Regions from separate parts of the Homo sapiens genome. Here region 2 is linked to region 1. Evidence: fine-mapped expression QTL. A gene starts in region 1. The other region holds a variant in brackets. All regions are shown on one strand. Distances are between the middles of the regions. Region 1 holds the start of CHMP3 (charged multivesicular body protein 3). Region 2 overlaps RNF103-CHMP3 (RNF103-CHMP3 readthrough).

Evidence for each region. PIP is the estimated chance that this variant, and not a neighbour inherited with it, causes the effect. A credible set is the group of variants that fine-mapping cannot tell apart.
Region 2: its variant is the best candidate, but not a certain one, in a credible set for the expression of CHMP3 in sun-exposed skin (GTEx, PIP 0.61).

Annotation. Positions count from the first base shown.
Region 1 is chr2:86,562,383-86,564,882 of GRCh38, forward strand. CHMP3 (charged multivesicular body protein 3) reads right to left here and starts at 1,061. Exons shown (of 6, transcript NM_016079.4): 1 at 922-1,061. The coding sequence starts at 966. The region is part of intron 3 of RNF103-CHMP3 (RNF103-CHMP3 readthrough); the gene reads right to left. It overlaps CHMP3-AS1 (CHMP3 and RNF103 antisense RNA 1), which reads left to right. Exons shown (of 6, transcript NR_183901.1): 2 at 464-538; 3 at 886-1,017; 4 at 1,306-1,400; 5 at 1,595-1,758. RefSeq lists enhancers at 487-656, 667-766, 924-1,218, 1,377-1,436.
Region 2 is chr2:86,584,106-86,586,605 of GRCh38, forward strand. All of the region lies in intron 3 of RNF103-CHMP3 (RNF103-CHMP3 readthrough), which reads right to left. The region is part of intron 5 of CHMP3-AS1 (CHMP3 and RNF103 antisense RNA 1); the gene reads left to right. Among named protein-coding and RNA genes, the nearest start is that of CHMP3, 22 kb to the left of the region's middle. The variant C/T (reference allele first, on the strand shown) is at 1,321.

The sequences.
Region 1 (2,500 bases):
CTCAGTGGGTCTGGAGTGGTGTCCGAGATTTAACAAGCTCCCAGGTGATGTTGATGCTGCTGGTTGGCATTTGAGTAGCAAAGCTGTGCCGTATTTAAAGAATTAGCCCTAACTACCAATATGAAAACTTTACATCCCTGAATCTTCAATTACTCTGAGGTGACACTACTATTATTCTGGCTTCACAGTCGAGAAGGCACTGAGAAGTGAACTTTCCAGAGATCACAGAGCTGAGATGTGGGAAGGCAGGATTCAAACTTAGGTTGACTGACTGCAGGGCATTTTCAACTGTTTGCCTCCCAATATTATCTCAATTAATAGGTAACGAGAGTTCGAAGCCGGGTCCAGAGCTATCTTCTGTAACATTCTTCTGGGTCGAGTCCCTGCCCCGCTACGGTATGTGCCTAGGGTCAACACAAGGGCTGGGGAAAGAGGAAACTGAGCCTCTTTTTCAACACAACAGGGAGGACGGAGAACAGACGGCTCCTCCGGCAGACGCGACCCGGCCCGCTCCAAACAACGCTTCGGGCAGGAGAAGGTTCTCCGGGTGGTCCGCAGCCGGGCTGGAGGGGTGGGGCCTACGCTGGGAAAAGGTTCCGGGCGGGTCGTACCAACGCGCGCAGGGGGAAGAGGTTTCCGAGGCCAGGACGGTGTCGCTGCCTACGCGCTCAGTGGCGAGGTGGAGAAACTCTTCATCCACCCTCGGCTACCTGTTCGAGAGCCATGGCACCAGGAGCTCTCGCGTCCCACAGCCGACTCCTAAAGACTCTTCCTCCGGCCCCCCTGTCGAGTGGGAGTCCCCGGAAATGGGGGCCGGGCGGTATCGGGCAGGCGGTGGGGAGAAGAGTGTCCTGTCATTTACCAACTTCACTACGCCCCACACAGATCCACCCGCTTATCTGCCGCCGCCGTAGCCCTTACCAGTTCTTTGGGCGGCTTCTCCTGGGTCTTTCCAAACAGCCCCATGACGAACTGAACCCGTCTTGCCCCTTCCGGCTTTCAGTTCCCCGCGCCCAGGCAGGTCACGGGCAGCCGCCTGGGCGGGGCCCGCGGAAAAGGAGGTAGTCCCAACCCCCAGAGTAGGGAGCGGCGGCACTAGGGGATGTTGCGCATGCGCCATACGCCTGCGCAGAATCGAGTGAGTGGGAGACTAGTCAAAAAGGCTGACGTCATCGCACATGTTCTGGTCATGTCTGTGTGGGGGAGACCACGGATTCGGTGCTTTTCGTAAGGTGTAGAAATGATTGCTCTGAAAGATACGAATTTGTTGGCTACAACTGCTTCTAATACTTCACCTAAACCTAGATGTTGCACCAGAAGTCTGGATCTCCACGCAGACGTGTACACTTAGCATCACTTTCCCGACAGCTTCATCTTTGTGTCCAGTAGGCAACTCACAGGTGACAAACCAAAAATAACCTCTTTTTCCTCCCGCCAACCCACTCCTCCCCTCTGCTTGCACCACCATCACCTGGTCACTAAACCCTAGGCATCGTCCTCTCTCCCCTCTTACCAAGTCCCAACCATTCTAACTTCAATATGTCTGAACTTCAACCCTCCCCTTTCCATCCCAACTGCGGTCGTTTTTTTTCAGGCCATCGCCCTTTCCAGCGTGGGCGATTCCTGCCTAGCATTTGTCCATGTGTGTCCCGTCCTACACGCCACACTGACCGTGAGCTTAATCACACTCTCAAAGGAATCTGACTAAAGAGAACTAGACACATTTTAGCACGGACAGTTCCTGATTAGGCCTATACGGTGAGCTGATGGTTACTGTCATTAACTCATCCGAGGATGGTGAAGGGGACCATTTGTTACCTCAGCCCCATACTCCTGTCTCTGGTGGAATCATAAAATGGTTCGGCAGCTTTGAAAACATTTTGACAATTTCTTAAAATGCTAAACAAAGCCAGCCTTCCATTCCTAGCTATTTACCCAAGAGGGAAAAAAGCATATGTTCTTACAAAGACTTGTACACAAATGTTCATAGCAGCTCTATTTGTAATAGCCATAAACTGGAAACAATCCAAATGTCTATCAACAAGTGAATGGATAAACCAGTCGTGATTGATCCATACGAAGGAATAGTACTGAGCAATAAAAAAGTAAACTATTGATAAATGCAACAGCATGGATGAATCTCAAAATAATTCTGCCAAGTGAAAGAAGCCAGAACCGTATGATTCCATTTACATAACATTCTGGAAAATGCAAACTAATACATAGTGACAGAGAGTACATGGGCGGTTGCTAGCGGATAGGAGTGGGGTCAGAAAGAGGCAGAAAAGAGGGATTACAAAGAGACACGAAGTTTAGGGGGATGATGGATAATATCTTGATTGTGATGATGGTTTCACAGATGTATACAATATCAAAACTTACCAGGTTGGACACTAAGTATGTGCGATTTATTTTATGTCCAATCATACTTCAATAAAGTTGTTTTTAAAAAAGCACTGCCTGTTCATTGTGAAAAGTTAAACCCTCATTCTCACTTCCT
Region 2 (2,500 bases), 22 kb after region 1:
AAAGAACTATGGATACATGCAGCATTATGGCTGAATCTCATAGGAACCACCACGCTTTGCTTGGACTCAAGCTTTTTGCACTGCAGTCAGGAAACTGTCCTATGCAGACAGCTGAGTAATCATGGAGCCTACCCTGTTAGTTTCCTTTCTCTCAAAGATCTCAATCTTGTACTTATCTTGTACTTCCTGTTATTCATTGCCTGAAAACAGCTATCTCATGTATTTTTGTCTGGTTTTACAGTTATTTGTAGCAAGAGGACTAGTCCAGTGCCAATTACTCCATCACAGCCAGAAGTAGAAATCCTGAGTCATTTTAAGAGGTAGCACTGCACTTGGGAAAACTGGATGTTGGGGTTGAGAGCAGAATGAAGATTAGATGACTACAGGGGCCTTTACTCAGACTGGCATTATGGCATACAATATATAGGTGGAAAGATGACTAGCAAATTTTGGATATGGTGTGATTAAGATGCTGTCATAGTTAAAGGCTAAGCTGCTATAACAGATACCTCAAAATGCAATGACTTAAATAAAATAGAAGTTTATTTCTGTTTTGTGGAATAATCCAGTAATTTCCATAGTAGGGCAGCTCTGCTCTGTGAAGTCATGCAGAAACATTGGCTGGCTAAGCAACTGTGTCTGCCAGTCATACCTAACTTTCAAGGTTGCATCCATTATTAACATATCTAGCAGGTTAGAAGTAGGAAGAGAAAGAAATAACACACATACCCAATGTTTTAAGTCAAAACCCAAAACCGGCAGGCATTATTTTTGCTTACATTCTATTGGCAAGAATTAGTCACATTGCCCACACCTAGCTACAATGTGGGTTGAGAAATATAGTTAACAACTGGGTATTTGTTCAGCTAAATTTCTAGTATACTGATCAAAATCAAGGCAAGGATGTCCCTTCTTATCCTTCCTTTCAACATTATACTGAAAGTCCCAATGAATGCAATAAGACAAGAAAGTAAGAGGTATACTGATTGGGAAGGAAGAAATAAATCTTTGTTCAAACATGACATGATCATCTATGTAGAAAATCCAAAAGAACTGACAAAAAAAAAGAGAAAATAAAAAACCTTCTGGAGCTAATAAGCAATTATAACAAGGTTGCAGGATACAAGGTTTATATATGAAAATCAATTGCATTCCTATACAAATGGTCCCCAACTTACAATGGTTCAACTTACAATGGGGCAAAAGTGATTGGCAACCATGAAGTTTCAGATTTTAACCACTGGTGATTCTTTGTCCAGAGACTCTCTGGGCTGCATTTCAGGCTTACAACATTTTCAACATGGGTCTATTGGTACATAA[C/T]TCCACCGTAAGTCAAGGAGCATCTACATACAGCAATGAACAAGTGGAATTTGAAATTTAAAACACAATAACATTGACATCAGCAACCCCTCCCCAGGAAGTACTTAGATGTAAATCTAACAAAGTAAGTACAAGATCTATATGAAGAAAATTACAAAACTCTGATGGAAAAAATCAAAGAAGAACTAAATAAATTGAAAGATCTTCTATAGGATAGGAAGACTCAATATTGTCAAGATGTCAGTTTTTCCCAACTTGATCAATAGTCAATGAAATTTCAATCAAAATCCCAGCAAGTTATTTTGTGAATATCAACAAACAAATTCTAAAATTTATGCAGGGGACAATAGGCAGAATAGCCAACACAATATTGAAAGAGAACAAAGTTGGAGGACTAAGATTATACAACTTCAAGACTTATTTTTAAGCTACAATAATAATATCACGATTAAAACAGTGTGATAATGTCAAAAGAATAAACAAATAGACCAATGGAACAGAATAGACAGCCCAGAAATAATCCCACATAAATAAAATAGTCTATTGGTATCCACAGGGGATTGGTTCCTGGACCTCCTGCAGATATCAAAACCCACGGATGCTCAAGTCTCTGATTTAAAATGGCATAGTATTTGCATATTACTTATGCACATCCTCCTGGGTACTTAAAATCATCTCTAGATTACTTATAATACTCAATACAACATAAATGCTATGTATTAGGTTGGTGCAAAAGTAATTGCAGTTTTTGCCATTACTTTCAAAGGTAAAAACCACAATTACTTTTGCACCAACCTAATAAATAAGTTGTTACACTGCATTGTTTAGGGAACATGTTCAGTATATTTCTAATATTTTTGATCGATGTTTAGTTGAATCCATGGATGTGGAACCCACGAATATGAAGGGCTGAATGTACAGTCAACTGATCTTTGACAAAGGAGCAAAGGCACCACAAGGGAGGAAAAGATAGTCTTTTCAACAAATGGTGCTGGGACAACTGGACATCCACATTGAAAAAAAAAAAAGGAATCTGGACACAGACTACACCCTACACAAAAATTAACTCAAATCGGATCATTGACCTAAATGTAAAATGCAAAACTATAAAACTACTGGAAGATAACATAGGAGAAAATCTAGATGACCTTGGGTTTGGTGATGATATAACTTGGTGATG